Linked DNA regions of Homo sapiens. The protein of the gene in region 1 interacts with the protein of each later gene in a biochemical or structural test. Each region holds a gene or a part of one and is shown on either strand. Other genes may lie near its edges.

What was found.
Region 2: the proteins of TRIM35 (region 1) and PKM form a complex in vitro, tested with the Homo sapiens proteins (one study listed by BioGRID).

Annotation. Positions count from the first base shown.
Region 1 is NC_000008.11:27,293,984-27,301,455, reverse strand, and holds part of TRIM35 (E3 ubiquitin-protein ligase TRIM35), read left to right. Parts: intron 1-2,896; coding exon 2,897-2,992; intron 2,993-7,145; coding exon 7,146-7,376; intron 7,377-7,472. UniProt on the Homo sapiens protein: E3 ubiquitin-protein ligase that participates in multiple biological processes including cell death, glucose metabolism, and in particular, the innate immune response.
Region 2 is NC_000015.10:72,220,857-72,228,328, reverse strand, and holds part of PKM (pyruvate kinase PKM), read left to right. Parts: intron 1-5,757; exon of another isoform or gene 5,758-5,775; coding exon of another isoform or gene 5,776-5,879; intron 5,880-7,044; coding exon of another isoform or gene 7,045-7,161; intron 7,162-7,472. UniProt on the Homo sapiens protein: Catalyzes the final rate-limiting step of glycolysis by mediating the transfer of a phosphoryl group from phosphoenolpyruvate (PEP) to ADP, generating ATP.

The DNA.
Region 1 (7,472 bases):
AAAAATTGGTACCACTGCTTTGGAAAACAATTTGGCATTACGCAGTAAAGTGAAGACACATATGGTGGCCCAGCAGTTTTATCCCCAGGAATATATTATGAAGAAACGAGTTCCCATGTGTCCCCAGGAGACATGTACAAGAAGGTTACCTCCTCTGGGTCTAACTTGATCCTCTGTATAATGGGACTCACAGTGCTTAACCTTATAGGGAGAATTCGAATTAAATAATTGAATTAAATAGAATGTTTGTAAAGTGCATAATTTAGTGCCTTGTGTCTAGTACATGCTTAATAGTAACTGCTTGCTAGCAATAGTAATATAATTGTTGGTTAGTCTCATCAGCTGACATCTCAGAGAAGGGCCATTTTAGGATTGGTCTTTTCTGAAGGAAACCAGAACTCTCCAAGTGATTGAAAAGTTTGAGAAGATCAAGGGACTATCCCCTTCCCATCCTTATTGTCCCATAAATTCCTAAGGGCCAGGGTTGAAGGGCAGGGGCTGAACTGTGTTGTTTTGGGGCCTGCACACCTTTGGGTAATGCGTATGGACAGCTGCTTCACTCCTGTCACTTAACTAATTTGGCAAATCACTAAATTTTCCTTTTGAACTGTATTACATGATTTTGTATCAAAAATCTCATTCTATAAAATAAAACATTGGAATGACATTTCAGTGGTTTTGTGGGGGCACTCATGCAAATTAGAGATGATATACTACAGAAAACAAAGTTTAAAAATCTTAAATATTGTCACTTAAGATTAAAAGATCAAAATGAGTTGAAAATAAAACAGAACTGCAGAAAATGAAATCAGTAACCATTTTGTTTTCTGTAGTGAAAGACTTAAAGGAATGGGCTACTGAGTGGGACAAATGGGCTAGTTCTCTATTTCCTAGCAAATTGCCCCAAAACTTAGTGCCTTAAAACAAACATTAATTATCTTTGAGTTTCTTTGGGTCAGGAATTGGGCCTGCCTTAGCTCTGGGTGCCTCTGCCTCAAGGTGTCTCATGAGGGGCTGCAGTCAGGGTTCTGTGGGCTAGTTCTAACCAATGGGCTAGTTCTCTATTTCCTAGCAAATTGCCCAAAACTTAGTGCCTTAAAACAAACATTTATTATCTTTGAGTTTCTGTGGGTCAGGAATTGGGCCTGCCTTAGCTCTGGGTGCCTCTGCCTCAAGGTCTGTCATGAGGGGCTGTAGGTATGGAGCTGTGGTCTCATCTGAAGGCTCAGCTAGGGCAGGATCCTTATTTACACTCACATTTGTAGTTGTTGGCAGGATTCAGGTCTTCACGGGCTGTTAGCCTGAGAGCCTGAGTCCCTCACTGGCTGTAGGTCAGAAGCCACTCTCAGTTTCTTGCCCCAGCAGTCACTCCCAGGGCAAATTACCACATGGGCAGCTGGCTACCATCCCAGTGAGCAAGCTAGAGAGAGGAAGGCAGGGTGTACACAGCCTTTGTCGCCTAACCTCAGAGGTGACTTAGTATCACTTGCCACATTCTTTTGGTTAGAAACAAGTCACCCACAGAGGAGGGGATTTCACAAGAGCATGAGTATCAGGAGGTGAGGGTCACTGGGGCCACTTTAGAGGCTGCCTGCCTGAATCTGTCCTTTGCCCCATAAGGAGTCATGTCCCTCCCACATGCAAAATGCACTGGCCCTCTCCCAAGCTCTCCAAACATCTCATCCCTTTACAGCATCAGCCCAAAGTCCAGATTTGTCATCTAAATCAGGTCCAGATGGGAATGAGGCTTTGGGCGACACATCTGTATAATTTATTGCTGCATATCCAGTCACCCCGACATTTAGCAGCTTAAAACACTCTCATCTCACAGGAGGGAGGGATCACTGGGTGCTGTCTCAGCAGCTGCCTCCATAGCTGTCCAGGTTCACGTCCTTCCACATACTAGCTGTGTGCCCTTGGGCTGGTCATTTCCCTTCTGTGCCTCACTTTCTCATCTATAAATGGGGCCAATAATATTACTTATCTACTAGGGAGAAGTAATGATTAAATGACATAATTTCTCAAGTAATTGGTGTTGTCCCTGGCACAGAGTAAGTACTGAATAAATGATAACCATTTATAATTATTTGAATTATTTTTCTTAAGAAAAAACTTGAGAAGCTTTCTGAGAATGTAGATCGAAAAGGATAATGAGGGAGAAAAAATGATAGGCCTAAGATACAAGAGGCAGGAATCCAACCTAAAACACTCTAGTGGTTCTTCAAGTTGTCCAAGGACATCAGAAACAATCATTAAAGTTTAAGAAACAAAAACTACTAAACCAAAAGTATTTGTGCCTGCTGATTAAAGTATTCCGTGCGATACAAGCAGTGTTAGAATGTCAGGATGCAGGAGGGGTATGGAGGGGCATGTTGGGCATGTTGAGGTGAGGCCTCATGGGAGGTAACTGAACCCCGTGGGAAATGACTGGCTCCACCCCCATTGTCAGTCACCTCACATTAGAGATTGCAGACCCATTCAGTTTAGGAAACTGCAGAGGGAACCTATGACCACACTGTCTGCAGTTGTCCACACAGCTCAGGGATTCAGACCCAGCATGAACCAGCTTTTGGCCCACATGGGACACTCTTCTGGCCTGTGCTGTGACCAACATGAGAGAGAGCAGCTTGCTTCTTCTCAGCCCCATCTCCCAGTCTGTACCAGGCTGGGCTACAGGATGTCTGAGGGCTCTTTATCCCATGGATGTCTGATTCAGGATCAGGACCTTACTTACCATTTGTGCCCAGAGCACTTGGCATGGATGGGGTTAGGCAAATGCAGTTGAGTTACACTTGTGTTGAAGTGGAGTCCCAGTTGTAAATGTGATGTGTCTGCCCTCTCTGCCCAGCCTCCAGCCCTAACCTGTCTTCCTCCCTCTCTCTCATTCCCATGTCAGGCCAAGTGCAGGAACATGGAGCATGCACTGCGGGAGAAGGCCAAGGCCTTCTGGGCCATGCGGCGCTCCTATGAGGCCATCGCCAAGCACAATCAGGTGAGCGAACGATGGGGCCAAGTGGGAAGATTGGGTCCACTCAGGGCAGTCTGGGGAGGAGTGAAGATGTGTCAGCCGTGGCTTTGGCTCACATAACCCGCTGGGTAGAGGTCGGCTGCCTTACCTCTGATGGTCCTGTGCAGCCACGTCCTGGATGCTGACTGTGGCTTCTCTGCCTTGGCCCCTCTAAAGACCCAGGCGTGGTCATGCCAGCAGCCACAGGAGTGACTTAAAAAGCTACCAACACCATCTGCACTATGGCACATGCATCATATCACTGCCACCTGTGTGTTCAATGATGACCTGGGACTCATGTACTTTCTTGTTTTCTTTCAGTTCCCACATCCACTCCATCAGCAATCCTATTCCCCTATCTCCAAAGTATGTTATTTCTGTAAAACCCTCCACCTTTTGGTCCAGGTCATCATCATCTCTCACTGGGCCTCCTGCCTAGGGCCTCATGCTTTCATTCTTGTGCATTCTCCTTTCCATGGACTGGGGTGATCGTTTAGAAAAAAACACCAGCCGTGCCCCTCCTCTGCTTAAAACTGCCAGTGGCTTCCAGTCACCCTCAGTACCACCCAGATTCCTTACCATGGCCTCCAAGGCCATCTCCTGACCCTGCCTATCCTCAACCTCATTTACTTCTCTGCCTCACCTTCTTTCTGTCCCTTAAGCAAACTAAGTCTTCTCCCCAGAACACATGCCCAGCATCTTTGCCATTAAAATCTCAGCTCAGATGTTCTCTTAAAGAAGCTTTTCCTGATCATCCTCCTCTTTTACTCGATGGCATAATTTCCTGGTTTATTTTCTTAATGACACTTCATTACCTGTAATTACCTTTTGTTTTCTATTTGCTTTTTATCCCTTCCTGTCAAAATATAATGAAAACAGGGCACACTATTGCCAGTTATCTAGAGGAGTTCTTGGCACACAATAGGTGACCAATAAAAATTGTTGATTGAATGAGTGAAGTGGGTAGGTGACCAATAACTGTTAATCAAATGAATGAGTGGGCTCCCTCTGTCCCCATTCTGGTTGTTCTGCCTGGCACCCTCTCTTCCTCCAGGTCCTGTGTGGATTGGCAACCTTGTTTCTGACTGTTGATCTTGGCTCTGGTCTTTGGCTTTCTGAAGTGGTTGCTTCTAGTAATTACCACTCTGTTAGACTCATCTTAGCCACAGCTGAGCCATGCCTGGTCCAGGTTGCTGGGCGCTGTCCTCAGGAGCCTGCGGTCCCCTCCACCATGTGTCCATAGGTGAGGATTAGTCCCAGGAAAGAGCCTCATTAACATTTGGCTGTGGAGTTTACCCTGAGCCACAGAGCTGGTGGAACAGTGTGGAAGAAAGGATTATGTGACACACTGGGTGCCAGGGCAGTAACCGCAAAGCAGACCTATTTCCAAATCTAAGCCCAGTTCCCCAGCAAATCCCTCAACCCCCTCCAAGCTAATCCCCTCCTCTGTAAAAAGAGGGCAATTCCCTTTTACTAGGGTTTTTAAAAAAAAATTTAGATAAGATAATGCATACAAGTGCCCAACAGAGACAAGTCCTTAACATTTCTGATGTCTAATAGACCAACAAACTGGTGGGAGAGAGTTTTCACTTTGTTCAGTAGATTATTTTGTCATCCGATGTCAGAGCCATAAATACATGTTGAAATTCCAACTCCAAATAGCGATTACGAACCTGCTGTTGCTGGAGTTTGTTGAGTTGTTTTTCCAGTAGTCATCGTGGAGTCATGTAGCTTTATCATTGTTCTCTTACTTGGTTTCCTTCTGTGGCTAAAGCCATATGACTGGCTTGCCTTGTACAGGACTGGGTTGGGGATACTTAGGGAGTATCTGTCTGTCTGTGTGGTGGCACTGCCTGCCCATCCCAGGGAGTGTAGGAGTCCTGAGCTTTTTGCTGAGGCTAAGGGTAATGAGGTCACATGGGAAGCCCCTAGAATTCCAGCCTGATTAGTACTTTTTCTATTAAATTCAGTTATCAGGTCGATGAGGAAAGTGAAAGTTCTGGTGTTTGTTCCTTTACAGTGAGGCCGTCATTGCCCACGGTGAGTGGGCAGGAGTTGACCTTGCACTTGCTGGTTTTTCCTGCCATGCTGTGTTCTTGATGTTTTTGTGTGATAAGAATTACTGGGGAGAGGGAGAGCATCAGGATAAATAGCTAATGCATGCGGGGCTTAATGCCTAGGTGATGGGTTGACAGGTGCAGCAGACCACCATGGCGCACATTTACCTATGTAACAAACCTGCATGTCCTGCACATGTATCCTGGAACTTAAATGTAAAAAAAAAAAAAAAAAAAGAGAATCACCCTGGATTCTACTCTCTCCAATGCAGACATTATCAGTCTTTTCAGCCTGATAGGTTAACCATGCTGTTTGTCCTCATTTGCATTTCTTTGATTATTGGTAAGTTTGTACATCTTTTCACAAGCATAATAGTCATTTATGCTTCTTCTGTGAATGCTAATTCACATTCTTTTTTTCCCTTGGAATATTTGTCTTTTCTCTTAGTGGATTTGTAAGAGTGCTTTGTACATTAATAATAATAGCCATTTGTCATAAATGTTGCAAATATATTTCCTAGTTTGTCATTTCTTTTTGAGTGGATCATTCTCAATTTTTTTGGCCATTTTCATTTTTTCAGTGAATCCTTTTCGTATATTTTCAGAGCTGTAAACATACACACAGTCCCTGGCTTATGATTTTTTGACTTTACTGTGGTACGAAAGCAATATGCATTCAGTAGAAACTGTACTTTGAGTACCCATACAACCATTCTGTTTTTCCCCTTCAGTACAGTATTCAATAAATTACATGAGACACTCAGTGCTTTATTATGACATAGGCTTTGTGTTGGATGATTCTGCCCAAGTGTAGGCTAATGTGAGTGTCCTGGGCACGTTTAAGGTAGGCTAGGCTAACCTATGATGTTTTTAGTAGGTTAGGTGTATTCATTGCTTTGACTTAACTATTTTTCAACTTATGATGGGTTTATTGGGATGTAACCCCATCATAACTTGAGGAGCATCTGTATTTAACTTTCAGTCCAAAGATGAGTTTACTAACCTGCCATTGCCACAGCACACATTTTGAATGGTTTTTCCAACAGTTGTCATGGAATTGTATTTTTGTCTTTAACTTTATGATAGTCTCTTGCCATACACACCTCTTATTTTTCTGTGTATTCAGTTATCTCATTCTTTCTTCAAGGCTTCTCAGTTTCATACTGTGCCGAGGAATGTCTTTCTTATTCCAAGCTGAGAAATATTTATTTGCTTTTTCTTTCATTACATTTATGGTTTTATCTTCCCTTTTAAAAAACTTTTTGTGAGGCTGGGCACAGTGGCTCACGCTTGTAATCCCAGCACTTTGGGAGGCCGAGGCGGGCAGATCACCTTAAGTCAGGAGTTTGAGACCAGCCTGACCAACGTGGCAAAACCCCATCTCTACTAAAAAATACAAAAATTAGCTGGGCGTGGTGGCGTGTGCCTGTAGTCCCAGCTACTCGGGAGGCTGAGGCAGGGAAAATTGCTTGAACCCAGGAGGCAGAGGTTGCAGTGAGCCAAGATCACACCACTGCACTCCAGCCTAGGTGAAAGAGCGAGACTTAGTCTCAAAAAGAAAAAAAAAAACAAACTTTTTGTGGTTGTGATTTGGAGTGTGTATATTATTTTAATGATTGTTTTAAAATGAATGCTTCCTACTGCTCTTTTGGTAAAGCCTCTGGATCAGACAAATTTTAAGTCCTAAGATTGGAAGGTAAATACTTAAAAAAAAATCATTGCTATTCGCAGCCATTCATTTCTATGATTCAGGACTTCCCTTGTTATGGTGCAACCTAAAGAAGGAACTGAACATTGTATGTAGATGAGGTTATAGTACTACAGTTGCCATCTATATAAGCTGTGATTTTATTTTTAAAAACCCTGTCAAAACAATCTAATATTAGGTTGTTGGACTTTCCCATTTGAAATCGGAACTTAGAAATTTGTGCTTATAAACTATTATGTTGATATTTTATCTGTAGGGGTTCTATACATGATTTATTTGAACATAAATTTCCTTTGCTAAAAATGGGAAAGTTGCTGGGCTATGGATGTCCTCTCCACATCTGACCCCTGACTCCTCCTGCTGTCTTCCGTAGGTGGAGGCTGCATGGCTGGAAGGCCGGATCCGGCAGGAGTTTGATAAGCTTCGCGAGTTCTTGAGAGTGGAGGAGCAGGCCATTCTGGATGCCATGGCCGAGGAGACAAGGCAGAAGCAACTTCTGGCCGACGAGAAGATGAAGCAGCTCACAGAGGAGACGGAGGTGCTGGCACATGAGATCGAGCGGCTGCAGATGGAGATGAAGGAGGACGACGTTTCTTTTCTCATGGTAAGGAGCTCAGCGTCTGGATTCAGTGACAGGGCCACATGTTCCAGGACCAGCTGGGAGCCATAGCCCACCAGCCCTGGCCAACGTCATCTTCCT
Region 2 (7,472 bases), on another chromosome or scaffold:
ACTGCCTTAAGAGCTTAAGTGTAGACTGGCAGAGCCCGGTGCCCAGCTAATGCCGTCTGTGCAGCTTCATTCCTGGCCCTTTTGTAGCGGGCACAGCCGCCTCTCCTGGGACTTGATTAATGATGACTTAAAGAAGGTTCTTGAACTCATTTCTCAGTTACTGACTTGAGCCAAAATGTATGGATGTTGGTCTCCTGTCTAGCACAACTGCTTTCATTTTAAGCATTGCATTAGAAATAATGTTGTATTCATATTTTAGCAAAGAGCATCATTAGCTCTTTAAGAACCGTACCCCCAGTGACTTAGCAAATTTGGTGGCGGTGACTCTAAACAGCTAGCACTTTATGGGAGTTGCTTCTGTGCCTTGAATGTTGTGACACTGATGTGGGGTCACAGGAAAAACCATTTTATTTCCTAAAGCTGTTTATTTCTTAATATTGAGGCAATGGAAGAAATGAGGAAACGGCCGTGGGCAGGAAGGTAGAAGAAAATGCAGCACTTACATTACAAACTCACTTTACTTGGGTTTTAGTTTATTTTGCTTCAGTTTTTTGTTTTTTTTTTTTTTTTTTTTTTTTTTTTTTGAGATAGTTTTGCTCTTGTTGCCCAGTCTGGAGTGCAATGGTGTGATCTCGGCTCACTGCAACCTCCACCTCCTGGGTTCAAGCAATTCTCCTGCCTCAGCCTCCCGAAGTAGCTGGAATTACAGGCACTTGCACCACGCCCAGCTAATATTTTTGTATTTTTAGTAGAGATGGGGTTTCACCATGTTGGCCAGGCTGGTCTTGAACTCCTGACTTAGGTGATCCACCGGCCTCGGCCTCCCAAAGTGCCGGGATTACGGGCGTGAGCCACTGCACCTGGCCTGCTTCAGCTTTTATGAAGGCAAGTCAGGATGTGTTATCTTGGCCAAGAGCTAAGACTGAGACCGGAGTAGAGGAAAATGACTCATTTGACATTACCCTTCTTTCTGAATCACTCCAAAAGTCCACAGTCAAATCTCAATTAGCTGGTATAACACAAGAATGCGTTGACCCTGTGAGCAGAGTTTTATTGCATCTTCAAGGGTCTTCGTGAGATTGGTTTATTTGGTATGAGGTCTTAAGGATTTTAAGTTGTCCCTTTAAGCATCAGTTCTGATACAGATGGGAATAGAGCTAAACAACCAGATATATGAAGACCATTTTTGATACCACCATACTTGCGGGGAGCTTGCATTTTTTTACCAAGGGGCAGACTGGATAATTGAGTAATTTAAATACTTGGGACTTTGTTAAAGAAGCTGTTGGGGGAAGGTGAGCCTGGGTGAGTGGTGGAGGGTGATGTGCAGCATCTGCTGGGCCTTCCTGCCTCTTGGTATGACTGCTCAGCTCAGGAGTTGGGTGCTTTAGGGCCCCTACCATGCAGTGCGGTGAAGCCCCGCCCCTGCAGTGGTTTGTGCTTGTCTGCACGTAGGAGGGAACAAGCCGGCTGCAGTACCTTCGGTGGCCTCTGAGACTCACCTCCCCCACTTCTGTCCATAGACAAAGCTCCTGGGGAGCCCTAAGCCTCTTTCCTCATGCCAGCAAGCAGTCTTGGAAGCAGGCTGGGGCTGCAGTGGGAGAGATGCCAAGACCAGTTATTCAAGGGCAGTGAGGTTGCCAGTCCTAGCATTTCACACTGTGGACCAGCACAGCTGCTGGCTGAATACTGCAGTCAAGATTCTCTGAAGGGAGTCCTATCCCTTCCAAACATCTTCAGTTTACTTGCAGATAATGTTTCTTCATTTTTTATTTTATTTTATTTTATTTTATTTTTTTGAGACGGAGTCTCGCACCATGACCCAGGCTGGAGTGCAGTGGTGCAATCTCAGCTCACTGCAAGCTCCGCCTCCCGGGTTCATGCCATTCTCCTGCCTCAGCCTCCTGAGTAGCTGGGACTACAGGCAACCGCAACCACGCCTGGCTGATTTTTTTTGTATTTTTTAGTAGAGACGGGGTTTCACTGTGTTAGCCAGGATGGTCTCAGTCTGCTGACCTCGTGATCCACCTGTCTTGGCCTCCCAAAGTGCTGGGATTACAGGCATCAGCCACCGCGCCTGGCCATGTTTCTTCAATTTTAAACAACTGATATCTCCCTTGGCCATGAACGAAAAAGAACTGCCCATCAGTGGAGTCAGTCAGGGCACATAAGACACACTGTGTCCACCATGCCATTTCAGAGGAGATTTGATTGAGTTAAGCAGGGAAATAGAGATGTTGTAAACGTTGAAACTATCTGGGTATCCCTCTTTGGTTATTAACATTAGATGAGCAGAAAAACAAATGTCACCGATGGGCAAACATTTAAAAAGTCTGGCAGTACCAAGTGTGGAAAAAGGTGTGGAAGGCAGCAACTCAGCGTTCATTGATATAGCCACTTTGGAGAGCAATTCAGCCTTATTTAGTAAAAATAGAAATAAACATACTCCATGACCTAAGACTTCAATTTCTGGATATATAGAAACTCACACAGTACAGGGAGACATGTACTACAAGAGTATTGATTAATAGAAGAAACTTAGTTTAACGGGGAGGGAGAGTGGCCACCAGTAAGACAGTCCATAAATAAAATGGTCTGTTGTACAGTGGACTAGTGTAACAGCTTAAATGAATTAGCTAGATCCATATACCCACTGGATGGATCTTAAATGTGCTGCTGAGTGAAAAACAAGTTACTCAGTGATATATACAGTATACCACTTAGGGCATTAAGAAAACCACAATATTATAGGGTTCAGTATAGACATAGATACACTGTACATAGACTTCAGTGAACTGGAAGGATATAGAGTTCATGACAGTGATTGGGTGTCAAAATGCATGATGTGGCTGGGAGCAGTGGCTCACACCTGTAATCCCAGCACTTTGAGAGGCTGATGCAGGAGGATCACTTGAGGCCAGGAGGTCGAGACCAGCCTGGGCAACATCGCAAGATTCCCATCTCTATTTAAATAAATAAAATAGAAAAAAAAGTTTAAGATGGAGGTGGAAAGGGTTGGAGGAGCTTGGGGATGGAGAAAAAATGAACTGTATAAAATTAAAATTCTTGTTTTTGTTTTTAGAAAGTAAAGAGGGCCGGGCACAGTGGCTCATGCCTGTAATCCCAGCACTTTGGGAAGCTGAGGTGGGCGGATCACGAGGTCAGGAGATTGAGACCATCCTGGCTAACACGGTGAAACCCCGTCTGTACTAAAAATACAAAAAAAAAAAAAAAAAAAAATTAGCCGGGCCTGGTGGCGGGCGCCTGTAGTCCCAGCTACTCAGGAGGCTGAGGCAGGAGAATGGCCTGAACCTGGGAGGTGGAGCTTGCAGTGAGCTGAGATCGCGCCAGTGCACTCCAGCCTGGGCAACAGAGCGAGACTCCATCTCAAAAAAAAAAAAAAAAAGAAAAAAGAAATTAAAGAAAATACAGCTCAGCCTTTATTTGTGTTTTTTTTTTTTTCCTTTTTTTCTGAGACAGAGTTTTTCACTCTGTTGCCCGGGCTGGAGGGCAGTGGTGCGATCTCCGTTCACTGCAGCCTCCACTTCCTGGATTCAAGCAATTCTGTGTCTCAGCCACCCAAGTAGCTGGGATTACAGGTGCGCGCCTGGCTAATTTTTGTATGTTTAGTAGTGATGGTGTTTCACCATATTAGCCAGGCTGGTCTCGAACTCTTAGCCTCAAGTGATCTGCCCGCCTCAGCCTTTCAAACTGTTGGGATTACAGGCGTGAGCCAACACAGCCAGCCATGGCTCAGTGTTAATGGTCAGTTCTGGGTGGTAGAGAGGCAGATGTTAAAACTTTTTTTTCTTTAATTCGTAACATAGAAGCAAACCTATAAAGGCTGCCGTAGGAAGACCAGTCATAGTAACTAGTTCAGTGCTCTTGGAGAGTTGGCACTGCCTTTCCTCCTTTATCCCCCCGACTAGAATGCAGGGCAGCCCTTCCAGTAAATGTTGAGCCAGTGCCTCACTTTGCTGAGGCCATCACCCACCTTAGTTGCACTTAAGAGGACCCTAAATCAGGGTCCCAGGTCCCTTGCTGATTTTAGAGTGTGGATATCATACCCAGAAACACCGCCCTACTTTTAATCCTAGTAAGGAGGCACCATGTCCCAGGACAACTAATGCTTCCCCCAAACCACCTCCTTCAGGCTGAAACCAGTTCTCTGCACTGAGCAGCTGGGATGGAACCAGGAAATCCTCGGCATCTGAGGACATTGAGGGGTCTCTGACTTAGGGCTTCTTCACCTGAAGTTGAGTGGTCTTTGAGGGAAGTAGGCCCATTTAGCATCAGCTGCTCTTCCCTATTCCACACTCTAGTTGGAAATAGGACCTTAGGTTCCTGTTGACAAGTCATTTACTTTCAGCCCCGAAGAAATAAAAGAGCCAAGATTTTTTTTTTTTTTTTAAAGCCAGGGAATTTTACTAGAACCTACAAGTGGGCTCATTTTGTTCTGTGTAGCCTGGTAACACCATACTGCTTTCTGCTGTGGGGCCTCCTGGGGTTAAAGTGTGGGCTTAAGACCCAGGTCTCTTAGCTAGAAGATATCTTATCCTCTGTATCCTGCACCCATATGCAAATACATTATTGTCATTACCCTTAACTATAGATGAAGATGAACAGTGCCTATTCCAGACCTTACTAGGTTCTGCTGGCCCGTCACCCATTTTGATCATGTTGCTGGCCTAGTTTGATTAGGGCAAATCTTAGAAACTCCATTTCCATTGTTGAGGAAGAGAACTAGAGAGCAGGCTGACCTGAATGCCAGCGTATCATGATGCAGACTTTCTAACGGATGCAGGTGTTCGGAAGAGTTGTGGATCGAAACGCCTTCATGATGGCTTGGAGGTGTAGGTAGCAAACTGACGTCACAGGAAGGAACACAATCTTGGGTACCTACTGGCAACGTTGGAGGGAGAAAGTGAGCATCAGGTGCCATCATTTTATAGTTGATCTATGTGATGAGGTTGGTATCGGAGCATAATTGGTACAAAGGAAAAATGACTTAGGCAGATGCAGACTCACGGGCCAGGCTATTTTATTAGGGCAGAATGATTTGGTCCTTTGTGGAAGAATTGGTGGAGTGAAGCGTGAATCTTTCCCAGCACAACCCAACAACAGTCCTGGCCCTAAGAAGTGGAGCATGGGAGTTGGGTGTGGTTCGTGCCTGTAGTCCCAGCTACTTGGGATGCTGAGGCTGGAGGATCGTTTGAGGGTGCAGTGAGCTATAATATAATATAATCACACCACTGCACTCCAGCCTGGGTGACAGAGTGAAACCCTGTCTGAAAAAAAAAAAAAAGAAAAAAAAAAAGTTGGAGGGAGGAGTGTTGGGTATTTTTTATGATTTTTGTCTCCTGGTTTCTGAAGAATGGCCAAAAAATTGTGTCTGACACAAAGGAAACTAATATAAAAAGCCAGGAGCTGTCTGAGATGAGAAAGGAAAGGGAGAATAGGGCACTTGGAGCTGAGCTGTGATTGTGCCTGTTCCAACCTGTCACTCCAGACTAAGGCCTCTTAGAGATGGTGTCTCCTTTCTCACAGAGGAGACATGGCTCTGAGGAAGATCTTACTGCAGGGGCTCGGGCTCAAGAATAAGGCTCCTGGACCTGGGCATGGTGTGTGCTGCTATCAGTGGATACGCCAGGCTTCCACTGCTGGCTGGAGGTTGGCTCTGCATGTCTGTGCCTTCCTAGGAGGAGGATGCAATAGTGAGTCAGACTGGCATGGGTGGGGCCACATGTCCTGGCAGGCACTGTCCAGGCAGCTGGCATGAGGGAGAGGAGTCTTTCCCAGAAGTCCGCCCTGAGAAACCAAGGCTGGGCTGCTCTCCTGGAGCCAGGGGAGTCCAGTGAGTGTTTTACATACAACTCTAGGTACGTGGTTGGTGGGATGGGCAGTTTGTGCTGGGAAGAGGCTTGTGGAGGATTTTGGAGAAGGCAGGAGAGCTCTGGCCCTCCCTGCAAGGGAGGCTTCAGGTCAGAGCCTGAGGAAAGACCTGGGCATGAGATATGAGGTCTCTGGCTGGGTAGAGAGCATGAAGGACACATGAGATCTGGAGTCTGGATGAACTTGCTGACAAGCAAGCTTTTTTTGACTGCTAATGCGTAAATCCACTATAGAAATTTTCATTTGTCATTTTTGTACTTATTGGCAAAAAATTAGAGCTTATAGGCATCAGATTTAATTTGAGATAGTTGAAATAGGGTTTGTGTTTGAGGCCAATATAATTTTATCTGCTAATGGCATCTCGTGGACTTGGAGGCAGCCCTTCTGTACCAGAACATTGTCAAAAGCTTTTACTGTAAAGCTTGAGAACAAACTAGTTTGCTGGATTTGGGCATGTAACTAACAGGTTTGAGGCATGGGATTATCCTGTGGACTTTTTTTTTTTTTTTTTTGCTTTGAGGTTCTGAATGTATTAAGGTTGACCTTCTTAAGCCGTTGAAACTGTTCTGCAGTACATTTGTGATGTAGGGCCTAAGACTTGTATCGTTTTTTTTTTTTAATCACAACCCAGTGTACAGAACTTGAGACATGCGTCTTTTCTCTGCCACCTTTTAAAAGCAGATTATTCTTGAAGTGCATAGAGCAGCAATTGATTAATGGAATTGGTGTCTTCACATTTCATTTACTTCCTCCCAACAATTTTATAGGATGCATATAAATATTTCCAAAAGAGGTACACATAATTTCTTACTATAAAAGTATTTTTATATTTATATCAGTAAATTTGTTAATAAAGAGGATTTTTTTTTTTCTGTAATCCTACCACCCCAATGACGTCCTATTAAAATTTCAGTATATATCCTCCCAGGTCTTTTAGGTATGTTTAATTTGGTGTCCCTTCCCCGCTCCCAAAAGGGGAGGGACCAGGTTCTTGTATAGAATAGTGGAATGTTAGTAAATCACAGGTTTAAAGAGACATAACAGTGGAATCTCTAGAGCAGCTGTCACCTGGATACCTGGTTATTAAGGTAATTTTTCCATTACCCCAAAGAGCTTTAGTTACACTCAGCTTTTTCCTTAATCCTTGTGCAGCTCTCCAGGGCACACCGTATTCAGCTCTGAGCGGTCTTTGCTAGTGAGGCCAAGGAGCCACCCTGAGCCAAAAGGGGAGCATTATGTCACCGGAAGCCCAACCCCAGAGAACCAAAGGTATGACCTGATATTCAGTGGCCCCAGCCAGGTCTTTACAGGAAGACCCTCATATCTCAGGTCTAAGAAGAGCCAGCTGATGGTTTTTAAAAAGAGTGGAATTAGTTACTCCAACCCACTTATTCAGATCTTATTTTGTTCACAATACAGTCCCTAGATTGTAGGCCCATTGGAGGCCACAGCAAAGCCTTTGTGTTCCAGTTGGCCTGATGTGCCATCTCTCAGTAATGTTCCCTTAACAGCCAGACTTCCCTAAGCCCAGCTGGGAGCTCTGAAGGTATGCGAGCCCTCCCTCAACCATGAGTGTAGGG